7 linked regions of the Homo sapiens genome follow. The protein of the gene in region 7 purifies or fractionates together with the protein of the main gene of each other region. This does not show direct contact. Each region holds a gene or a part of one and is shown on either strand. Other genes may lie near its edges. The genes, in order: COX4I1, SCARB2, ABCE1, LARS1, ESR2, NTRK1 and NIPSNAP2.

Region 1 (2,437 bases), on a different chromosome or scaffold from region 7:
TCATAGGCCGGGCACACTGGCTCACACCTGTTATCCCAGCACTTTGGGAGGCCAAGGCGGGCAGATCACCTGAGGTCAGGAGTTCAAGACCAGCCTGGACAACATGGTGATACCCCGTCTCTACTAAAAAATACAAAAATTAGCTGGTCGTGGTGGTAGGCACCTGTAATCCCAGCTCCTTGGGAGGCTGAGGCAGGAGAATCCCTTGAACCCGAGAAGTGGAGGTGGCAGTGACCCAAGATTGTGCGGCTGCACTCCAGCCTGGGTGACAAGAGCAAGACTCCGTCTCCCAAAACAAAAAAAAAGGGTTGTGGTAACTCCTGCCGGTGTGCCTACGATAATGGGATTTTACTTATATAAAGATCTCTTGCCAAAAACCTCAAATTTCCTACATCAAGGAATTCTATATTTTCAGTTTTTATATAATGTCCCCTTATACAATTTAAGATACTAGATTTTTGCCATTTCATTTGCACCCAAAATATATTTACTCCAGACCCTTGGGAGAAACCTATTGTTTTAATTAGCTTTCATTTAGGTATCATTAAAGAACTGATCACAAAGGGTTTCAGGTAAACTGGTCATTTATTAGCAGTGGTACAACTGTTTGGCATAACAGGTTTCCAGTAAATAGGCATGGAGTTGCATGGCGGTGACAGAGCCAGGCGCAGGTGCAGGCGCAGGCCAGCATCTCTCACTTCTTCCACTCGTTCTTTTCGTAGTCCCACTTGGAGGCTAAGCCCTGGATGGGGTTCACCTTCATGTCCAGCATCCTCTTGGTCTGCTTGGCCACCCACTCTTTGTCAAAGCTTTGCGGGAGGGGGCCGTACACTACGGTGTGAGACAGGTTATGGGGCAAGACTATCTCAACAGGTTGTTTCTAGGCCAATCCCTCACACAGGTTAAATCCTCCCGACACACCAGCCACCAGGTCAGCAGAGCCACCTGCCACTCAACACCCGCTCAAACACACGGTTTCTGACCACTGACAACACTGACATTTTAAAATTAGCCCTTTGTTTGTAAAAAGTTAGCAACAAAATAAGCTAAAAGCAGAAGGTCCTCTCTAAAGGCTATGGATAACAGGATCTGACAAACAGAGCCCAAGGTGACCTGGAAGATCAAATAGATTCGGGTCTGTTATTAACCCACATCCACATTCAAACCAAAAGTACGAGAATATACCTATTCAGAATGCAAAAATGCCTGTTCTGCCTGGACAGAAAGAACCTCGGGGAAGAGTCATTACCACGAGCGAGCAACCCGGCAATGCCCACACACAAACTATCAGGTCGGGACCCCCAGATGCTGGCTGTTGAGATGCAGTCCTCACAACAGTCCAGACAGTCATTCAATGAATGAGTCCCCTTATCCTTGCTCGAACCTTCACGAAGTCATCTTTCGCTAAGTGACTGGTGAGCACATAAATTGCTACTGAAAACGTGGTGTGCTGTACAAAGTAGTTAAGGTATTTCACCACCCAACAAGCATGGCTATGAATAATCAGATGCTGGCTTATAAACTAACCTCCCACGACTTCAGTTCTCCAGGTCACCAAGGCCTGGAAACAATCCTGAGATGAACTCTGGAATGCAGTCCCTATCTCATAGCCTCAAGGTATGGAGGTCCCCGACAGCCCACCAATGGGCACTGCAGGCTGGAGCCCCAGTCCAGGCGCCCATGCCTTCCTCCCTCTCTACTCACCATAGTGCTTCTGCCACATGATAACGAGCGCGGTGAAACCGATGAAGAACATGGCACCGCCCACAACCGTCTTCCACTCGTTCGAGCCCCTGTTCATCTCAGCAAAGCTCTCCTTGAACTTAATGCGATACACTGGGGGCAGAGAGGACAGCCATTTACAGGCACAAAGGTCAGCAGCTCCCTCCTCTGCAACATTCAACCACTTCTCCCCAAAACCACACTTGTGAAGGAGGAAACACAGAGCTGAAGGATACACCAACCCAGGCCACATCATGTTCACGCACGTACGTGCACACACGTGCCCACGCAGGCATGTGACAGGGCAAGGAAAGAAGAAAATGCATACAGTTCGCTTCAGGTGCAAATTAAAACTGCAAAATTATTTCTTACTTGAATTACAGTATTAGGGTCTATTTAATCTTGTTATTTTTCTGCCCCTTTCATACCAAACACTATGCATTTTGCTGAGTTTCTTTCAATAATTTACAGTTAACTATGTCTTACCCAGCAGATATGCTGAGAGGCTACCTCCACTCAGCACAGAGAAGGGGGCCTAGCAAAAGATCCTGTCAGCTGGCAGAGCTAAGTGACTGGTGAGCACATAAACTGGGGCCCTGGCACAGTGACCCCGAAACCCAGCAGAGCAACCCTCCTGTGCAAGACTGCCTCTAGACAGTAGGCCCAGAAGTGAGCAGAGGCTCTGTCACACACACGCTTCCGAGAGCTGCTGGGC
Region 2 (3,500 bases), on a different chromosome or scaffold from region 7:
ACTGCACTCCAGCCTGGGCAACAGAGTGAGACCTGGTCTCAAAAAACAAAAAAATTATATATATATAAAAAATTGTTTATATATACGTATATCATATATATGTGTATATATACATATATATATACAACTGACAAAAGTATTTTTCATCTTGAAGACTAGTTTTAACAGCCACATGTATATATTTATGTATGTATATGTTAATATATTTGTTAATATATGAGTATATTAACAAATTTTATAGTTATATATAAATATGCATATATTTGCATATACTTATATTTGCTATATTTTAATATATATGTATATAGTATATATATATAGGTATACACACACACGTGCGCAAGTGTGCACACACACTCATGGTGCACACACATGCATGTATGTCCCAGGGTCCCATGTTGGATATACCAGGGCCCCAGAATCTACACTTTTAACAAGTACTCCAGCTGATTTCCATAAAGATGGCGTCTAGGTATTTGGGGACCATTGTGCAAGGGAACATGGTACCCTTTACCTGGAGATAAAGACCAAGGGTGAATGGGAACAAGTTCCTGGTTGTGATCTCCCCCATTGCCTTACTGGTAATAGTCCTGAAACAGTGTCCCTGCCCCCTCATCTGGTGTGCATCTGGCTCAAAGCAAAAATGTAGATATATTTTCTCTTGCTGTTTTTATTAAATTCTGTTTCCTTAAGAAGCTGATGCCAGAATCAACAGAAGTATTCTACTTTACACATTTAAACTTCTTGCTACAATCCTTTTCCTCTTCCCTCTTAACGTATTCCCGAATTTGGACTGAAGTGAAACTCCCCAGGATTATCCTCCAGTGTTTTGAATTCTCCAGGGAAACATTTTGGATAGCAGGATGAGTGTTCTGGAGTCAGGCAGATTGGGTTTGAGTCCTATTCTATTTGTTGGTAAATTGGCCAAAGTTTATTAAGGAGGGTTCCAGACATCAGTTTTCTCATTAATAAAATGGAGGTGGTTATAGCTTCTTGAGGTTGTGTGAGAGTTAGAAATAATATATATAAAACACTCAGGACAGTAGCCCCTATTAAGCCCTCAACAGATTTAAAAAATACATTTTCAAGGTCATTATAGGTCACAAAGAAGGAAGTCATGCCTTTGTGGAACTATTCAGCAGTAAACAGCAAAATGCATGTGCATGTGAGAGATGAGGGATGAGTTCCTTAAGCCATGGGCTGGTGAATATGTAAGCAAATTTAAATAACTTGCCGACAAGCTCCTTTCTCCAAAAATGTATTTCCCTGGCAGCAATTGTTGGGTCCCTCTCTTCTTTTCAATAGCCAGATCTAGAATAGGTTTCCTTTAGTAACTTGTTTCCCTATTTGGTTATATATATATATATATATATATATATTTAAATTTACATAAGCACTTATTTGGTTCTTAAAATGAATAGGAAAGGAAAAACCCCAGAATCTTTGTGATCTGGTTAGAGGCTGGGTGTATAGCACAACCAGGCTAACTCTTAAAAAATTATGTAGGCCAGGTGTGGTGGCTCAAGCCTGTAATCTCAGCACTTTGGGAGGCTGAGGCGGGCAGATCACTTGAGGTAAGGAGTTCAAGACCAGCCTTGCCAACATGGTGAAACGCTGTCTCTACTAAAAATACAAAAAAATTATCCGGGTGTGGTGGTGCATGCCTGTAGTCCCAGCTACTTGGGAGGCTGAGGCAGGAGAATTGCTTGAACCTGGGAGGCGGAGGCTGCAGTGAGCTGAGATTATGCCTGTCTTTGGTAAAAACAAAACAAAACAAAACAAAAAACCACCAAAAATTTTTTTTTAATTTTAAAAAGGACAAGAAATAAAAAGTCAGTCCACTTACTGATAGAGAATTGTAGTTGAAACTAGTGCTTTGAGGTACAACACCCTTCATTCACTTAGTATTCTGCCTTCATAGCCTGATGGCTAGCTGTCCCTGGGTAAATTTTGTAACTTCTATGAACCTCACTTTCTTCAAATGCAAAGTGAGGCTAATAGTTCTGACTTTACTGGGCTGTTGGGAGCATTAAATAAAATAATGTGTATGAAGCACTTATACTTTAACTTCAGTAAATATTTGTTGAAGAATAAATAATTTAGCCTGAACTTCAATATATAATGTGGAATAAAAAATTGGGGGTAAATGAGATGTCAGAAAATGAAGTATAAATCCTGAACTAGGAGGTAAAGGATGGTGTTTTAGCCTACCCAAGTTAATTTATATGTAGCTTTTTTGTTTTTCTTTAGGAACCAGGCTGTGGCCAGGAACTTTTATATTCAGCTCAGCTTAGATTTTAAAAACAGCATCATTCATTTCTGTTTTCCTTCAAATGCAGGTGCACCCATCATTATGTCTTTCCCACACTTTTACCAAGCAGATGAGAGGTTTGTTTCTGCCATAGAAGGCATGCACCCAAATCAGGAAGACCATGAGACATTTGTGGACATTAATCCTGTGAGTACATACTTCCTCCTGGTAAAAGAGCATATGTTTTATTCTGTCTATACATTGTTCACCAGTTTAGTCCTGAGCCTTCTTTAAAAATATCCTTACTTTCATATACATATTCAAGTGGGAGAAATTCAGCTCAGTGCTGATGGAGGCATTGTCTCATAGCCCTGTAATTAGAAGGCTGAATTTTGTGGATTGAATAGCAGAAATACGAGCAAACCTGCCTTTAACAAAAAGCAACAGTGAAAACTCAGTTATTGGAAACTACTGATGTACCCATATAACCTGGTCAATCTTCTGATGCTAGCCTTGGACCTCAACATATATTTATTTCTCCCCTTGGGACACAGATCGATAAGGTTAAAGATGTCCCTTTGCTTCCTCACTGCCAGGAATATTTTGGTTGAAATATGAATATGTATATTAACCTCAGTCACTTTTGGCAAACTTCTTTCTACAGGTTATTTGAGAGTTTATTATATTATTAATTGTAAAGGTATCAGATATACATAGAGGAGACATACACACGTGTGTGTGTGTGTGTGTGTGTGTATAATACACATTTACTCCTGTATTCATAGACGAGAAAAACAAAAACCATGCTAACCATGTCTTCATTTTTGGAATTTGAACATTATGGACCAATAAAAAAAAAAAACAAGAACATTCTTTTAGCACAGTATTTTATGGGTACTTCACACTCTTAGCTGCATACATTGCATTTGTATCTGAGAAACCAGTGATCTTATGCTCTGGTGAATAAAATCGTGTGTGGTTTTCTCCCTTTTCTCTTAGCCATCAGCTGATCAGTTCCCTTGGATCAGCCAAACTGTTAGCAGTGCTTGTCACCAAGGGACGAACACAGTCTTATAACCTTAGTGCAAAGATGGAGCTGCCCTAAGGATGACAAGTGCTGCAGCTGTGCCCCATGGCTACGCTAGGCGGGCCCTATACTAGGATGCCACTCTCTGGCAGTGACCACCACCCTCTTCTTAGCTCTCTGGACAACTGCCTGGAAATCCAGACCTGACAGGCTATCTTTTAG
Region 3 (3,500 bases), on a different chromosome or scaffold from region 7:
TATAAGATTTTGTAGATTTCAAGATCAGTAAGCTGAACTCTGCTTTGAGTTCACATCCAATACACTTTTAAATATTGATGTATTATTCTAAAATTTGGTCTTTCTTTAAAAAATATGATCCTTCAGTCACAAAGCAATAAAAGAAATTTAGAACAAACTACTTTTCTTGTCTTCACAGTTTTATGAAACTAATGGTGAACACAAAGTTTATGTTAATGTCCGTAAAGAATTATCAAACCAGTTGATTTCTTTCATGGTTTTCTTTTATACTTAAATGATCCACAGAACAGCTTACCCATTCGAACTACAGGACAACTCTTTTTGCATTCCTGTCGACATTTCTTAGGTTTACATTTGTCATGGTTGACAATAGCAATTCTCGTTAACTTGTCTGCCATAACTGGGCGAAAGAATATCCAGCTCTTCTATGAAAGAAAAATCAACAAATTTAATGCCATTAGTTAAGGGAACTAATTTGCATACATGAAAGACAGGAAAACATAAATGATCATTATATGGAGATGAAATGATTATCTGCAAAAAAAAAATATAAATTTTGACAAATGTAAAAATTGTAAAATAATCTATAATCTAGTAAGGTTGGGAAAATCAAATTTTACATATATACTTTAATCAGAAGATTTATATAAGGAAAGAAAAAAATGTCATTTACAATAGCGACAAAAAGAAAATATCTAGGAATATACTCAACAAGATATATACACAAGAAAACTTTAAAACAACACCAAATGATATAAATGACCTGAACAAATGACATGCTATCTCAGTTTTTATAATAAAGAATAGTTAATATCACAGATTTAAACCCTTCCTGAATTTATATATTTAATTCAATCTCATGAGAAAAAACAAACAAAAGAACCCCAGACATGTGGTGGTGTGCGCCTGCGGTCCCAGCTATTCCGGAGGCTGAGGTGGGAGGATTACCTGAGCCTAGGAGGTGGAGGTTACAGTGAGCTGAGATCACACTACTGCACTCCAGCCTGGATGAGAGTCAGACCCAGTCTCAAAAAAAAAAAAAAACCCCAACCAACCCAGACAAAGCAAATCTAAAGCTCTAATGGAAAAAGAATTATTAATAGCCAGGAAAACTGAAAAAGGGGAAGCAGGATGGGGGAAATCCCACAAGCTCTTCCCCCAAACTAAGCATTACTTCACGTCGTGTACATCTGACTATAATGACACTGACAGAAATGGCAAATAATCATAATAGCAATGAAATTAAAAGGAGACCAAATAACTATATGTATATACTATGCTCACTTTTAAAGCTTTTATAAGTCTTGATATTCCAATTTAATCAACTACACAGCATTAAGATCAAAGTTAACTTAAAAATCTTTCACAATATTGGGCTTAGTGGTTCAGAAATTAATTTCCTTAGAATGGTGATTAAAGTAAAAAATTCCAAAAGGTGCCTTAATACTCAAGTTTATTCCAATATGTAATGAATGAATCTGAAACCAAGATTATCCATTTAGAAAGAGATCATGTTGTCTTTTTCTTACTGTGATAATCAATCTTGATTTTATTTTATTTTTTTTAATAGACTGCTTCCCTTTGTAGACATCTCAAGTCTTTTTCACACCCATCAATATCATTAGGCTTGGATGGGGATAAGAGATCTTGCTCCTCGACGCTGTCCTAGACTATTATCTCTCCCTCCTCCCTAAAAAGTTTTGCATCTCAACTATCTAACTGCTTTAGTTAGTAGTGACCACCAGATCACTCCCTTTCATTCTTTGAAGATTTCAGCCCCTGTTAACTTTCACACACTCTTTTACAACTCCTGACATAGTTCTCGATTTCAATATGCTCACAGATGACCCTCCTGTCCTCTCATTTAACCCCTCTCCTCAAACAGCTTGTCTTCTACCTTACCACAGCCATTCATTTTTTCTGGTTACATCCTAGACCTTATCATTACCAGTAATTGCAATCCTTCTATAACCTCAACTTCAAATACTCCATTCTCCAACCACCATTCTTATCTTTTTAGTTCACCCCCTACTACACAACAATCCAACAACTCTGATTCCTCCATTCTTCAAACCTTTCATTATCTCTTGATTCTATCATATTTCCACTGTCCCTCAGCTCTTGGTGTTTTTATTTTCCTTCTCACCCAGCTAAAATACCCTAAATCACAATCTTGGTTAAATTCGACTCTTCACCTGCACACATAGAGCTGAAAATGGTAGGTGAAAAAAAAACACAAAACCTGCTGACTAGTCTCCCTTTAAATTCATCATCTCAAATGGACCCTTATGCCAACCAGCAATGACACTGTATGTATTTCCCTGGCTAAGACCATTTGTACACTAGAAGACATTCCATAAGAATGTCCCAACAATTCTCCCTTCTGTCTTTAACTTCATCAATTATTCTCTCCACTGGCTCATTCTTATCAGCATTCAGGCATTCTATTATCTGACCCCATCGTCTCCCATTGTTTTATTTTTCCTTCTTCAAGACTACTTCAAAGAGTTGCTTATACTCAATGTCTCAAATTTCTTGCTACATGCTCTCTGGAATCCATTCTAGGCTCTAGAGCCCATCATTTAATCAAAACTTTTCGAGCCATCATTGTTCTTCACATGGCTAAAACAAATGGTTATCAGACCTTAATTCACCTGACCAATCAATTGCATCTGACACAAATAAACACTTTTCCTACTAGATAAAAACCCTTTCTTAACTTGGTTTTAGGATACAACACTAATCTGGTTTTTCTACTGTTTTCCTGGTCACTCATCTTCATCTCCCAGGCTTCTAAATGCAGAGTGCTCTAAGACTTGGTCATTTTTTTCCACATATACTCATTCCCCAAGTTGTTCTATTCTGGTCTCACAGGTTTAAATTCCATTTATATACTGCAAATTTCCAAATTTCTATCTTTAGTCAGCATACCTCTCTTGAACCCTTCCTGCCCACCTAACATCTCTGGAAGGCTTAAGAGGAATCTCCCAACTAAGCTCCTGATATCCTCACCAAAATTTCAGCAGTCTTGCCCATTTTGTTAGATGGCAACTCCAGTCTTCCATTTGCTCAGGCCCAAATCCTTGAAGTCATTTTCTTTTCCACCTAATAACAGCAAATCCCACTGAAGCTATAAAACATCCAGAATCTGATCTCATGAGTTTGGTGTAAGCTATCACTATCATCTCTTACCAGCATCACTCAAATAGCTTCCTAACAGATCTCTTTGCTTTTACCCTCACCTCTTTCTACTCTAACCCTCAACAGTTCATTCTCAACACAGGAACCATAGGAAGCCTTTTAAAGAGTAAGCTAGATCATGTCACTCCTCTATTTAAAATCCTGCAATGGCTTCATTCTCAATCTGAGTAAATGCCAAAGTCCTGAAAATAATCAATGAGGCATTGATCAGCCTCTGTTAACTTTCTGATCTCATCTCCAACTACTCTAGCTCTTGTATGGCTCCAGCTACATTGGCTCTTTGTTGTTCCTAGCACATG
Region 4 (3,500 bases), on a different chromosome or scaffold from region 7:
AAAAAAAGAAAGAAAGAAAAAGGCTAGGCACGGTGGCTTATGCCTGTAATCCCGGCACTTTGGGAGGCTGAGGTGGGCGGATCACGAGGTCAGGAAATCGAGACCATCCTGGCCAACATGGTAAAACCCCGTCTCTACTAAAAATACAAAAATTAGCTGGGCGTGGTGGCACATGCCTGTAATCCCAGCTACTAAGGAGGCTGAGGCAGGAGAATCGCTTTAACCAGGGAGTTGGGGGTTGCAGTGAGCCGAGATGGCGCCACTGCACTCCAGCCTGATGACAGAGCAAGACTGTCTCAAAAAAAAAAAAAAAAAAAGAAAGAAAGAAAAAGAAGATTAAATGAGAGTATACATGTAAAAAAATTTGCTAGCACATTTGCTAGCACACAGTAAGTGTTCAATGTTAACTTACTATTATTGTTGTTACTATAACCGTATTTCTTCAATCTGAAAAAGCACATTTTCTTACATCTCAACATATATGAATCTGGGATATATCTTATAATTGATGCATACATTTATTAAGGCAATGTTTGGGGGAGTTATTTTGTTTTTGTTTTTCCCAAATATCATGTCATGATCTACGTTTGTCTTTAAATCAGTATTATTTTAGTATCAAGGCAATGCAGTATTTATGAAATAATATCTTCAACATTTATACTTCTATAAGCATTAGGTTTACTTGTAAAGAAAAAACATAAAAATTTACATTTTCTGTCTTTGGAGATAATAATCGTCTATGAGTCTAATAGAATAATTTCGTTTTATCAGTCAGCAAAGAAAAAAATCTCAAAACATCCTTCTTTGTCTAAATATTTAAAATACTGTAGTCTTTAAAACAAAACAAAACAAACTTTATTTAGAAAAAAAAATCTTTACAAACCCCATAAGAAAAAAGATCCTAATTCATATGCAGAAAGTGAAAGTCACCTCCTTCACCCTGTTTCAGGCATTATAAATACAATCTACCTTATGGGTTCCACCAAGCTGTTTCTGTACTATAAAGCCAACGGTTTTAGAAATACAATGCACAGGGCCGGGCGTGGTGGCTCACGCCTGTAATCCCAGGACTTTGGGAGGCCGAGGCGGGTGGATCACGAGGTCAGAAGATCGAGACCACCCTGGCTAACACAGTGAAACATCATCTCTACTAAAAATACAAAAAATTAGCTGGGCATGGTGGTGGGTGCCTGTAGTCCCAGCTGCTCGGGAGGCTGAGGCAGGAGAATGGCATGAACCTGGGAGGCGGAGCTTGCAGTGAGCCGAGATTGCGCCACTGCACTCCAGCCTGGGCGACAGAGCAAGACTCCGTCTCAAAAAAAAAAAAAAAAAAATATATATATATATATATATATATAGAAATACAATGTGCAGAACTTCACAAACTATTACTCACCTGGTCTGTTTCTCTAAATTAGATGCATTGACCTCAAACACTCTCTCAGTATCCCATTTCTGTTGGATTTCTTTCTCAATCTTCTTCAAAAAGTCCACTTTGGCTGTTCCTTTTCTTTCCTATTGGACACAAAGAGAATAATCCACTCTGTATTTCAGCACGCTTGCTTTAAAAAAGAATTGGGTTCACAGAACTGAGCTGCTCACTGATAAAGACTGATTTTTCCATGGTTATCTTGAAATTTAAATGAACATTAAAAATTAGGGTTATCAGCCAGGCGCGGTGGCTCATGCGTGTAATCCCAGCACTTTGGGAGGCCGAGGCGGGTGGATTGCTTGAGGTCAGGAGTTCGAGATCAGCCTGGCCAACAGGGCGAAACCCATCTCTACTAAAATACAAAAATTAGCTGGGCGTGGTGGCGGGTACCTGTAATCTCAGCAACTCAGGAGGCTGAGGCAGGAGAATCGCTTGAACCAGGGAGGCGGAGGCTGCAGTGAGCCGAGATCATGCCATTGCACTCCAGCTTGGGTGACACAGCAAGACTCCGCCAGAAAAAAAAAATTAGGATTATCATGACCTGTGTACCTCAAACCTCAAAGAAATGGTTGAACAATTACTGAAATATGTAAAAGGCTTTGATATGCTTTTTTAAAATTATATACTACAATGTAACACTGTCATCAAATGTTTCTATTTAATTAAAATACATGAATATCAAAGATACTGATAGAGAACTTCTCTCCAAAATTGTTAAAGAACTGTTCATATGAAATTTAAATAAAACAGGCTGGACACGGTGGCTCACGCCTGTAATCCCAGCACTTTGGGAGGCCGAGGTGAGAGGATCACCTGAGGTCAGGAGTTAGAGACAAGCCTGGCCAACGTGGTGAAACCCCATCTCTACTAAAAATACAAAAATTAGCTAGGCAAGGTGGCACGCATCTGTAATCCCAGCTACTTGGGAGGCTGAGGCAGGAGAATCGCTTGAACCTGGGAGGTGGAAGTTGCAGTGAGCCAAGATTGCACCATTGCACTCCAGCCTGGGCAACAAGAGCGAAACTCCATCCCCCACCAAAAAAAAAAAAATACCTGGACTCTTTTCAAGTTTCCATAAAACAGTGATTGTATAAGGTATTTTCTTTTCTAAGAAATAATAAGCCTGCACAACTGTTCATCCCTTTCCATTCCTGCTACTAACCACCTTCATTTAGACTATCAACGCCACTGCCCCCTCTCACTTCAAAACCTCTTCTTAATAAGTAACTTGGCTGGATGTAGTGCCTCATGTCTACAATCCCAACACTTTGGGAGGCTGAGGAGGGAGGATTATTTGAGGCCAGGAGTTTGAGACCAGCCTAGGCAACATAGAAAGACCTCCTCTTTAAAAGAAAAACAATTTTTTTGGCCAGGTTTGGTGGCTCATGCCTGTAATCCCAGCACTTTGAGAGGCCGAGGCAGGTGGATCACCTGAGGCTACGAGTTCAAGACCAGCCTGGCCAATATGGCGAAACCCCATTTCTACTAAAAATACAAAAATTAGCCGGATGCGTTGGCATGCGCCTATAATCTCAGCTACTCGGGAGGCAAAGACAGGAGAATTACCTGAACCCAAGAGGCGGTGGTTGCAGTGAGCCAAGATGGAGCCACTGCACTCCAGCCTAGGCAACACAGCAAGACCAATCTCAGCTCACTGAAACCTCCATCTCTGGGGTTCAAGCAATTCTCCTGCCTCAGCCTCCCGAGCAGCTGGGATTACAGGTGCGTGCCACCATACCTGGCTAATTTTTGTATTTTTAGTAGAGACGAGGTTTCACCATGTTGGCCAGGCTGGCCTCAAACTCCTGACCTCAGGTGGTCCACCCGTCTCAGCCTCCCAAAGTGCTGTGATTACAGGCATGAGCCACCCAGCCCGGTCTGTAAAATATAATTTCTAATATTTTTACAGAGGAAAGGACCCACCCACAAAGGCAAAAGTATGTAGGGCCTCATGAAGCCTAGTCATATCTCCTACCCTACGGTCATGGGTAATATGAAATTTCACTGTATTTATGTGTGTGTGTCTGTGTGAGAGAGAGAGGGTCTCCCTCTGCCACCCAGGCTGGAG
Region 5 (3,500 bases), on a different chromosome or scaffold from region 7:
TCCCAGCACTTTGGGAGGCCGAGGCGGGCGGATCACAAGGTCAGGAGATCGAGACCATCCTGGCTAACATGCCGAAACCCTGTCTCTACTAAAAATACAAAAAATTAGCAGGGTGTGGTGGCCAGCTCCTGTAATCCCAGCTACTTGGGAGTCTGAGGCAGGAGAATGGTGTGAATCTGGGAGGCAGAGCTTGCAGTGAGCCGAGATTGTGCCACTGCACTCCAGCCTGGGTGACAGAATGAGACTCCATCTCCAAAAAAAAAAAAAAAAAAAAAAAAGTTACATGCAAGGAATTTCTCAATACTGTACCATCCTGGCCTATTTGAGACAATTTTAAAAATAAGTGGCCACTTTCAGTTACTGTAATGCACTTATATCAAAGACAGGAAGCATGCAAAGAAAGGATCATTTAGGCACTACAACTGTACAACTGTAACAGCTTTAACTCTTTCCTCTTTGCACATTTAGAATTTGACATTCCTGTCTGATGCAGCAGGAAGGAAGAAACAACATAGAGAAGCAAAGGAAATTTACTTTCAATTGTTATTAGCTGTAGTCTCAGGGGTCAAAGATGTTTCAAGCAGACCAATGTTTCCCCAAAAGCAAAAAAAAAAAAGAAGGATCTCTTTTTAAAAGATATGGTTAGTAGTAATAGGTCCAAACGTTCTTAAGGGGTAAAATCCTAGAAACTCAGCAAGATACAAAATAGTCATCGTATCAAGAATTCAGTTCAGAATTTCAGAAAATCAATATTGTTCTTATCATATAGCCAGGAAATGGACTTGGCCTTATAATCTACTGTTAAGATTGTCACAAATAAAATATTTGAGCACTGAATATGTTTTCATATAATCAACCTTATTTCATCTTTAGAAAATCCCTATGAGTATCTCCATTTCACAGAGGAGGAAACAGGCTAGGAGGTGAAGTCGCAGAGCTAGTAATTATAAAATCCAGGACAAAGAGGCTGCCATTCATACAGGGTGAATTTCAGGGGACAGGTAGGAAGGTGACTACCAACATTTCACTCCTCACCATATCCTGGATTCTATCAGTATTTCTCTGCTTAAGGTAAAACATCCTCTTAGAGTTATCAATGGGTGAGTTAATTTAGTAAATTGCTATTTGCCATTTACACACTATGAATTCTCTCAACGTTGCTTTTCTTAACTGGCAAAGAACAAAGCATTGGGGCTTTGATAGAAAAAGGAAGGGAGCTTTCAGATGGAAACATAGGGTGTTGCCTGGGAGGGAGCAGTTGAGGGACAGGTTATGGGGCAAATAGAGAAAACAAGAGTAAGCAAGAAAGTGACTTCAGCAAATCAGGGCTGGTACGAGAGAAGGAGTGTAGCAAAGACACATGCAGGGAGATGAGCTGACCAGCCTTGAAATCAGGGGTGCACAACTTGAAGTTTATAAACCAAAAAATAAAATTCTAAGGCCCCTCAACCATCTGAATGGGTCCCTCCTCTTGGCCAAGGGCATTACAAAGTTAACCTGAAAAATAAGTTTAGGCCATGATGGAACAAGGGAGACAGACATGGTTCATTATACCCTCCCTCCCCTTTTGGAATCACTGATAGAACAGACCCTTTAAGACCCCTAAGAAATATTTACAATCTATTCTCTCTGAAGCCTGCTACCTGGAGGCTTCATCTGCATGATAAAACCTTGGTCTCCACAATCCCTTATTGTAACCCAATCATTGCTTCCTACTGATAATAATTCTTTCAATCAATTGCCAATCAGAAAATCTTTGAACTGCCTGTGACTTGGAAGCCCCTGCTTTCAGGTGTCCTGCCTTTTCAGGCTGAATCAATGTACATCTTACATGCATTGATTAATGCCTTATGTCTCCCTAAAATGTATAAGACCAAGTTGTGGCCTGACCACCTTGGGCACATGTTCTCAGATCTCCTGAGGGCTATGTCACAGGCCATTTGTCACTCATATTTGGCTCAGAATAAATCTCTTCAAATATTTTACAGAGTTTGATTCTTTTCATCAACAAGTTGATTTAAAAAAAAAAATCCAGAAGGCGTTTAGAGAAAGTTAGGGAAATAATCTAAACACAGCCCAGAAAACAAGGGGATTGTGAACTGAGACCCTCCTAGCCTAGGGGAAGAAATGTGTCTAGATCAATTCTCAAAGTCCACTGTAGCTGAATTCCTGATTTCTGACCATTTCCAAAAAATGTGTTTATTCTTTCTTCCTCAGGAGCCAGCCCACCATCATGACTGTTAAGCATGCTATATATTAAATTTAAGTAAAAGAAAGAAACAATCTTTGCAACTCCTTGTGAGCACATTTTTTCCAAGAGACATCTTCACAAGGTTGTAACTCGATGTCTTCTATCCAACACCCATGTGGGTGAACGAGGGGTAAGACCCATTCGAGTTGGCTGTATAATCTTGGGGTTCTGGGGTAGAAATCTGCAATTCCACCCCACCACCCAACCCACTTCCAAACACACATGATCCTCTGAACTGCTCATCAAATACTTTGTGTGCCAAACAGGCCAGTAGTGACATTTCTGCCAAGTCATCTCTGCAAAATTGTTTGAAATCAAAAGTAGGAAACTAAAGAAGCAGTTAACAATTCTCTTGTACCTTGAATGCTTCTTTTAAAAAAGGCCTTACATCCTTCACACGACCAGACTCCATAGTGATATCCCGATGCGTAATCGCTGCAGACAGCGCAGAAGTGAGCATCCCTCTTTGAACCTGGACCAGTAACAGGGCTGGCGCAACGGTTCCCACTAACCTTCCTTTTCAGTGTCTCTCTAGGGAGCAAAGAAAATATCCATTGAACAGAGCATAAAAGGGAAAGGAAGGGCTTTCTAGGAAAAAAAAATAGCATGAACATTGCCTAATTTAATCTCTTTTTCCTCCAGGGTTCCTGGTAAATATATTCCCGGAAATCTGATACAGCAAAGCTTTTGATACTGATATCATATCTACAAAGAGCCACGCTGTGGGGAATGACTAATGTTTGAAAGTGGGTAGGTGAGTTTATGCCCATCCACGTGATGCTGATGAGCATTTGTCACTGCCGAAGACCAGTCATAGCCATGGGGTGGGAGCTACATCTCTAAGTGTAATGAAAGGAGTGGCCAGATCAAATCTTACCCACAGGTCTGAACCACAGGCAGGATATGCATTGGTCTTCTGTAGTTACTAGAGTTCACGAATGCTGCATGGATGGGTGTGAAGGCATTCAACCACTTCCAAACATCAGTCATTCCCAACAGCATTGCTAAGCAGCCCTTCAGACATTTGAAGTTCCCATTTAAATGGAGAACAAACATCTCACACTCTGCAATTTCAGATAAAGGTCTAGATTTAAAATAACTTTCAGGTTGGGCGCAATGGTTCATGCCTGTAATCCTAGCACATTGGGGAGCCAAGGTGGGCGTATCACCTGAGGCCAGAAGTTCGAGACCAGCTTGGCCAACAAGGTGAAACCCTATCTCTACTAAAAATACAAAAATTAGCCAGACA
Region 6 (4,071 bases), on a different chromosome or scaffold from region 7:
CACAAACATCTCTGCACCCCCATAGCCTCTGGCCCCTCTTCACACCCAAGCAGCAACCCCTACTCCACCGAAACCTCCCCTACCATCTTTTCAGCAGATCAAGCAAGAGTCTTACAGGCTATCAGTTAGGGACCCCAAGGAGGGACCCAGGAAAGAGGAGAGGAGCAATGAGAGGAGGCAGTCAGAGTGTCGAGGAGGGGAGAAGAGGCACAGACTGGCTGACTTACACAGCAAGAGAGAGAGAGAGAGAGACAGAAAGATGGAAAGGCTCAACGAGGAGGGTGGGGGCAGACGGGCAGAAAAACAAAGAGAGAGTGAAACAGAGACACTGAAAGAGAAACTGACAGGAAGAGGTCAGAGAGATAGTGACAGGCAAGAAGGAAGACAGATAAGGGGAGGGAGACAGACAGATAAGGACAGAGAGCTACAGAAAGCGAGATAGACAAGAAAGAAAGAAGAATGAGTAGGCATTCGGGGCTAGGGGACAGCTGACGCCCTGGGGCCTGCCTAGCTGCTGGATCCGACATACCAGGGAGTTCCTGAGAACTCGGCTGCCCTGTAGTGACATGTTAGTGTGCCCCCCCCACCCCAACAATACACATGCCAGGGGCCCCTGACTCACTGACGGTTCTCAGAACTCTCCCCCTCTACCCTCTAACTTTCCCTAACTTATAGGAACCAGGACCAGCCTAAGTGACCCCTCCCTTCCTCCTTTCCTCCCTTCCCAGCCTTGGCCCCACCAGGACAGCCAGGATCAGGTCCTAAGTTTCCCTGTGGACTTAGTAGAGGCCTATAAAGTAACCTCCACTGACTCCGAGGGAGGCCAAGTCCCTATTCTACCCACCCCCCAGCCCCTGCCCAGAGGGTTTCAAGCTGTAGGGACCCAGGGAGGGGGTGAGAATGCAGTGGGCTGGCAGGGTGTGTGGGAGCTGTCAGGCCAGCGTGCTCAAAGCTGCCTCAAAGCTGCCTCATTCGTTTGGATTCATAATCAATCTGTCTATTCGAGTCCATTATCTCCTCGTTAGCTCTGCGGGTGAGTGAGGAGGGAGGGGGCTGTGCAGGCAGTGGGGAGGGGGATGTCAGGCTGCAGCCCCACCCAGGGGGACATCTCAGCTCACCACCCTACATGCTTGCTAGTCCCCAGTTCTGGCCTGTCCACTCCCCCTACCACTCCCATCCCTACCCTGCTGGACCCACTTGGGGCTTGGAAAGAGTTGGGAAACACGAGCCCTGATGGGGAGCACTCAGGAGTCTGGACCCCAATCTGAAGGCCCAGGGTGATGAGAGAACTGGACTAGGACTGGCAACCTGTCTCTCATGCCCCCTCCCATCATGCAGAGACCTAGGCCTAGACCAAGACAAGGCCATCTCCTCTACTCCTGGTCTCCCTAGAGCTATTAGAGAGAGAGATTGAGTGCCTTCCCGTTAATTACCATGAGATACCCAAGGAACTCAGTGCCAATTACTGCAAGCTGCTCAAGTAACTTCCAGACAGTGATGATCCTCACCTCGGATACCTTCCAGCCCATCACAGCACAAGGCCAAGGTTCCTTGTCCACCCTCGAAACCCCAGGCCACAGGAGGAGGATTTTCTAGCAGTTCTCCCCTCTTCTAGATGTCTTGCTGGCCATGATAGCCATATGTAATATTCAAGTATTTTCCAGCCATCACCATATGATGCCTGAGTACCTCCAGGCCAGTCATTACCGCATACTCCCATAGGTTTCACCAGCTGCTAAAAAGTACTTGAGTATTTTGTAACCAATTCCTGCAGAATGTCAGAGTCCTGCAGAATGCTGAAGATTCCTCCCAGCTTCGTGTACCAAAGGGAGGAGGGTCTCTCAGCAAGGGCCCTGACTCCCCGCCCCAGGTAGAGAGACAAGGTTGGAGAGGGAGATGGGAGTGGGGAGAGAAAATCCAGGAGGGGGTCCCATTTCCCAGATCCAAATCAACGGGTTCTGGGGGAAGGAATGGTAAAAATGGAAAGAGGAGAGCTCAACCACTCAGCTCCTCACCGCCTCCCACCAATGCCAGCCAGCTCAATCCCCAATTCCAGAAGAAAAGCTAGGGTTGCCTCCTCATAACAAGAAAGTGGGCGGGGGCTGGCTTGCCCCTAGAAAAGGAAAAAGGCAGTAAGGGTGACAAACTGGGGACTTCTCTGCTGGTAACCATCCTTCTCTGTAGGACAGAGCAGGGGCTTCTGGCTGAGCTCCAGAAAGCGCCTTCTAGACGGCTAGGCTCTCTCAGACCTGGTCCACGGAGATTTCCCCCTTCGATCTCCCTGAAGCCGGCGGCCCAGCTGCCCTGAACACTAGGGGACATCCAGGCACTGACCATAAAGCTTGCTAGGGCAGCGGCGGCTGCGGAGGAACGCCCGGGCAGCGCCGAAGGCTGCGTGGTGCCAGCCTTCCGCCGTGCTCGTCCTGCCTGACCAGCAAACAAGCAGCGAGTCCGCGCCCTCGGGGCACTGCAATGCCTGCCTGTCCCCGCGCCCCCCCACCGCCCGCCGGACACTCACAGCTCAGTCAGGTTCTCTGCGCCGGGCAGGTGGTGGAGGCTATCCAGGGCCCCATCCCGGGTGCATCGCAGTCCCGAGGAGCCGTGGGGGCAGCAGGCATCGGGGCAGGGTGCGGCGCCCGCAGATGCCAGTATCAGCCAAGCCAGCAGGCTGCCCGGCCCCGCAGCCCAGCTGTGCCAGCCAAGCTGCCCGCGCCGTCCGCCTCGCAGCATCGCGGCGGCGCCCGCCTCGCTCAGGCGGGGCAGCCGTCTGTGCGCTCCCAGCTGCAGCTGCCAGGCCTCCCCCGACATGTGCGCTGGGCGGTGTTAAAGACCCAGCCGCCAGGAAAGGGCGGAGCCAGCGGCCCCCGCCCGGCCCCGCCTTGCCCCTCTTCTCCACCCGCTTCCTACTCTCTGACGCCCCCCCCTCTGCCCCCTCCCCTGTTAGGGGCCCCCAGCGTCAGCCTTCTCCCCGAGGATCCGCCTCAGCTCCGGCAGACGCTGAGGGGCCGCAGCAGAACGCCTCGGAGGTGTCTGCTGAGGCCGGAGGTGGGAAGCTGATACGTTATTTCTCTCAGCTTAAAGCAGCTGCATTTTTACATTTGGGGAGGAGGGAAGATGACTGCGTTGAGGAAAGGTTGCTGTCCAGGTCATCCTAGCCAGCCCCAGGCTCAGCGCTCCATCCTCGCGGCGCGCGTGCCTAGGGGAGTGAGCATGTCACTTGGAGTAAGTTAGGTAGAACATTCTCCGAACTCTAGGAAGAAAACGAAAAGGACTACCAAAGGATCAATCGCAGAACCTGGGGAGGAAGACACAGACGGGGCAGAGAAAGGGAAGGGGTCGCCTAATCCGGCCGAAGGGAGTCCGGAGAGCCAAGACCGCGCCTCCAAGAGAAGCCACAGGGTGGCGCGAGAAGCCCGCGCGCAAAGGCGCGAGCTCCCCGCCCGCGCTGGGTGCCTGGGGGTGCGATCTGCAGCCCCCAGTGAGCAACGCCTCAGGTCTCAGCTTCAGTCCCTGACCCCGGCCAGCCAGCGCCGGCCCCGGGGCAGGATAGGGCAAGGCAGGGCAGGGCTGACATCGATCGCCTCCCTGACAAGAGCATCGATTTATTCGTGAAGAAATTAATAGATCTTCTCTTAGCTCCTCGGACGCAGGAGCCGCCCGCGGGTGGAGCTGAGGACCGCGCACCTTGGAGGCCGAGCACCTGGAAAGCCCCGGGATCCCCAGCACCCAGGGCAGCAGAAGGCTGGTCCCAACCCCTCCCACCGCGCAAGCCTCCGTGGCTGCACTAACCCATCCGTCTCAAGCTGGGGAGAGCGAAGGGAAGAGGGGTGTCTCTTGGCGGGGAGACAGGCAAGGCCCCAGGGAGCGGGGGAAGGACGACCTCCTAGAGGCTCACGGTTCTCTCCGCCAAGGCCCCAGCACGGATGGCCCCCCAAGTCCCCGAGACAGGGACACACAGACCGACCGAGCAGCCTGAGCTCAAGAAGGTGACCAGACGGAGGCAGAGCCCTACACAGTGATCGCCTTCTTCCTCGGGATCTTGGTCAGAACCAAGGGACTAGGCGGTGACGG
Region 7 (3,500 bases):
CATATATCCATCAGTTAATCTGGCAAACACAGTGAGCAGCTATTCTAGGCACCGTTCCAGAACCTGGGCTACCAAAGAATGCCTGCTTTCCATGACAACAGCATGCACTCCAAGAAGCAGAAGCAAAGAAAAATGTAAAATGTGTGGCACTCCTATAAGAGAGCCCACATTTATCTTTGCAATTTGCACTATGTGTTTTTCAAAGCAATTTTTGACACAGAAAAAATATACATGGATACCTAGAGTAGATAAACCCACAGAGACAGAAAGCAGAACGGAGGTTGCCAGGAGGTGAGGAAAGGGGAGGTTGGGGTAAGGAGTTTCAGTTTAGGAAGATGAAGAAATTCTCAAGATGAATGGTAGTGATGTTTCCCCAAAATGTGAATCTACTTAATGCCACTGAACTGTATGCTTAAAATGGTTAAAATGGTGAATTTTACATTACGTACATTTTGCCACAATTTAAAAAATATTATTTGATTTGGAAACAGATAGTGGTGATGATTGTACAACAATGTGAATATAAGTAATGCCACTGAATTATGCACTTAAGATGGTTTAAATGGCAAATTTTATGTATATATGTTTTACCACAATAAAAATATTTTAAAAATACAAGGAAAATGAAATACATTCTTTCTTTAAAAAAAATTTACCCCTCAAGTAACTTAAAAATCAAAAAAAAATTTTTTTTTAGATGGAGTCTCGCTCTATCGCCCAAGCTGGAGTGCAGTGGCACGATCTGGGCTCACTGCAACCTCCGCCTCCCAGGTTCAAGCGATTCTCCTGCCTCACCCTCTAGGGTAACTGGGATTACAGACACACACCACCACACCCAGCTAATTTTTTGTATTTTAGTAGAGATGGGGTTTCACTGTGTTGCCCAGGCTGGTCATGAACTCCTGAGCTCAGGCAATCCACCTGCCTCAGCCTCCCAAAGTGCTAGGATTACAGGCAGGAGCTACCGAGCCTGGCCAAAAAAAAAATCAAGATTTGTAAAAATTAACTTTAAAAATCAAAAATTTTTTAACTGCCCCCACAAACCTCAGAATACCAACTTTATTAACACATAATTTGCTAATTTTCATCTCATAATTAAATTTCTATTGTGAATGCTTTCAGAAAGTGAGGATAAATTTGACTCAAGTCACAAACTATACTTTACTCATGGATTTTTTCTTTCTTTTTTTGAGACTGGGTCTTGCCCTGTCACCCAGGCTGGTGTGTGGTGGTGCGATAGCTCACTGTAGTTCACTGTAGCCTCAAATTCCTGGGCTCAAGTGATCGTCCCACCTCAGCCTCCTGAGAAGCTGGGACTAGAGGCATACGTCATCTTGCATGGTTAATTTTTTTAAATTTTTTGTAGAGATGGGGTCTTGCTATGTTGCCCAAGTTGTTCTCAAACTCCTGGCCTCAAGCAATGCTCCCACTTCAGCCTCTCAAAGTGCTGGGATTATAGGTGTAAGCCACTGCAATTGGCCCTACTTCACAAATATCTATGTGCATGTTGAACTCCCATATGCCAGCTAATAGGAATACAAATTTGTTGACCTCCCAAGAGGGCAGTGTGGCATCATCCATATCAAAATGGAAACTGTGTATGACTTCAGCCCAATAATGACACTTGCGGTTATGTCCTACGGCCAGCTATATTTAGACAGGTGCACAAAGTTGAATGCATACAAATATTCATTGCTGTCTTGTTTCCAGTTATCTCCTGGCATAGGCCATTTGAATAGCCATTAATGCAGACTGGTCACGTAAATTAGGAAATACTCCCCGTCAGAAAATATGCACTCGATAAAAAGAATGAGGTAGATTTATGTGCACTGATGTGCTGACATCTCCAAGATAAATTCTGTAAAAAAGCCGGCACAGAACAGCACTATATATACACATACAGAGTGAGCTGTTAAAGGGTGATGACATCTGGGGAACATGACTGGGCCTGGGGTGGGAGTAAAGGTTTTTTCTTTTCATTGTATAACCTTCTGAACTATCTGAACAATTTCTACACACACACACACACACACACACACACACACTTTTTTGAGAGAATCTCGCTCTGTTGCCAGGCTGGAGTGCAGTGGCACCATTTCAGCTGACTGCAACCTCCACCTCCCAGGTTCAAGCGATTCTCCCGCCTCAGCCTCCTGAGTAGCTGGGACTACATGGTGTGCCACCGTGCACGGCTAATTTTTGTATTTTTAGTAGAAACAGGGTTTTGCCATGTTAGCCAGGCTGGTCTTCAACCCCTGACCTCAAGTGATCTGCCCACCTCGGCCTCCCAAAGTGCTGGGATTATAGGTGTGAGCCACTGCGCTCAGCCCTCTTCTGAACTTTATGTAACCATGATCAAATGACAAACAGCGTTTCCCTCATCTTCTTGGTTTTTCACATCTATGTACAATAAAATGTACTTTTTTGGCAGACAGTACTGAGTTTTGACAAATGCCTAAAGTAATGTAACCAGCATCACAACAGCTTCTTCACCCCTTGAAGTTAATCCTTTTATAATCAACCCCTCTCCCCATCTCTAGCAACCACTGCTGTGTTCCTTGTCCCTCAGTTTTGCCTTTTCTAGAACATCGTATGTATGGAATCATACAGAAGGGTAGCCTTCTGAATTCCTGCCCCTTCTTTCTGCACAATCCCTTTTATAATTGGTGATCTTACCTCTGGCCAGGTCTATCACAGCATACCCTTTATACTTTTGTTCTCTTTTTATTTTTGAGACAGGCTCTTACTCTGTTGCCCAGGCTGGAGTGCACTGGTGTGATCACGGCTCACTGCAGCCTTGACCCCCAGAGCTCAAACGATTCCCCCACCTCAGCCTCCAGATTAGCTGGGACAACATATGCACACCACCATGCCTGGTTAATTTTTGTATTTTCTATAGAGAATGGGTTTTGCCAGGTTGCCCAGGCTGGCCTTGAACTCCTGGCCTCAAGCGATCCTCCTGCCTTGGCCTCCTGAAGTGTTGAGATTTCGAGCATGAGCCACCATGCCCAGCTACTTTTGCTCTCCAACTGACCTACACATAGATCTTTTCTGCCTTTTCCTAGATCAGTAATGTACTGGGATTCCAAAGGGCCAGCATAAATGTCCAGAATCTTAGTGCTTCTGGACATAAAAGTCCAGATGCTGATGGGCCAGTGTGAACCTCTTCTTGGGGATCTCTTTAGAAACACTAGATGATTTTCTACAACAGTATTTCTTTTTTTTTTTTTTTTTTTTAAGACAGAGTCGCGCTCTGTTGCCCAGGCTGGAGTACAGCGGCATGATCTTGGCTCACTGCAAGCTCCGCCTCCCAGGTTCACGCCATTCTCCTGCCTCACCCTCCTGAGTAGCTGAGACTACAGGCGCCCGCCGCCACACCCGGCTAATTTTTTGTATTTTTAGTAGAGATGGGGTTTCACCGTGTTAGCCAGGATGGTCTCGATCTCCTGACCTCATGATCCGCCTGCCTCGGCCTCCCAAAGTGCTGGGATTACAGGCGT

What was found.
Region 1: the proteins of NIPSNAP2 (region 7) and COX4I1 fractionate together in Homo sapiens (co-fractionation; one large-scale study listed by BioGRID). This does not show direct contact.
Region 2: the proteins of NIPSNAP2 (region 7) and SCARB2 fractionate together in Homo sapiens (co-fractionation; one large-scale study listed by BioGRID). This does not show direct contact.
Region 3: the proteins of NIPSNAP2 (region 7) and ABCE1 purify together in Homo sapiens (affinity purification with mass spectrometry, with the first as the bait; one large-scale study listed by BioGRID). This does not show direct contact.
Region 4: the proteins of NIPSNAP2 (region 7) and LARS1 purify together in Homo sapiens (affinity purification with mass spectrometry; one large-scale study listed by BioGRID and IntAct). This does not show direct contact.
Region 5: the proteins of NIPSNAP2 (region 7) and ESR2 purify together in Homo sapiens (affinity purification with mass spectrometry; 2 studies listed by BioGRID). This does not show direct contact.
Region 6: the proteins of NIPSNAP2 (region 7) and NTRK1 purify together in Homo sapiens (affinity purification with mass spectrometry; 2 studies listed by BioGRID). This does not show direct contact.

Annotation. Positions count from the first base shown.
Region 1 is NC_000016.10:85,805,132-85,807,568, reverse strand, and holds the end of COX4I1 (cytochrome c oxidase subunit 4 isoform 1, mitochondrial isoform 1 precursor), read right to left. Parts: coding exon of another isoform or gene 2,416-2,437; intron 1,837-2,415; coding exon 1,705-1,836; intron 1,114-1,704; coding exon of another isoform or gene 1,067-1,113; exon of another isoform or gene 832-1,066; coding exon 695-831; coding exon of another isoform or gene 582-694; 3' UTR 501-581; downstream 1-500. UniProt on the Homo sapiens protein: Component of the cytochrome c oxidase, the last enzyme in the mitochondrial electron transport chain which drives oxidative phosphorylation.
Region 2 is NC_000004.12:76,168,825-76,172,324, reverse strand, and holds part of SCARB2 (lysosome membrane protein 2), read left to right. Parts: intron 1-2,339; coding exon 2,340-2,458; intron 2,459-3,500.
Region 3 is NC_000004.12:145,101,311-145,104,810, reverse strand, and holds part of ABCE1 (ATP-binding cassette sub-family E member 1), read right to left. Parts: intron 426-3,500; 5' UTR 399-425; coding exon 296-398; intron 1-295. UniProt on the Homo sapiens protein: Nucleoside-triphosphatase (NTPase) involved in ribosome recycling by mediating ribosome disassembly. Able to hydrolyze ATP, GTP, UTP and CTP. Splits ribosomes into free 60S subunits and tRNA- and mRNA-bound 40S subunits.
Region 4 is NC_000005.10:146,176,151-146,179,650, forward strand, and holds part of LARS1 (leucine--tRNA ligase, cytoplasmic), read right to left. Parts: intron 1,516-3,500; coding exon 1,397-1,515; intron 1-1,396. UniProt on the Homo sapiens protein: Aminoacyl-tRNA synthetase that catalyzes the specific attachment of leucine to its cognate tRNA (tRNA(Leu)).
Region 5 is NC_000014.9:64,277,372-64,280,871, forward strand, and holds part of ESR2 (estrogen receptor beta), read right to left. Parts: intron 2,783-3,500; coding exon 2,610-2,782; intron 1-2,609.
Region 6 is NC_000001.11:156,859,594-156,863,664, reverse strand, and holds the start of NTRK1 (high affinity nerve growth factor receptor isoform 2 precursor), read right to left. Parts: upstream 2,801-4,071; 5' UTR 2,731-2,800; coding exon 2,519-2,730; intron 1-2,518. UniProt on the Homo sapiens protein: Receptor tyrosine kinase involved in the development and the maturation of the central and peripheral nervous systems through regulation of proliferation, differentiation and survival of sympathetic and nervous neurons.
Region 7 is NC_000007.14:55,974,585-55,978,084, reverse strand, and holds part of NIPSNAP2 (protein NipSnap homolog 2), read right to left. Parts: intron 1-3,500. UniProt on the Homo sapiens protein: Protein involved in mitophagy by facilitating recruitment of the autophagy machinery required for clearance of damaged mitochondria.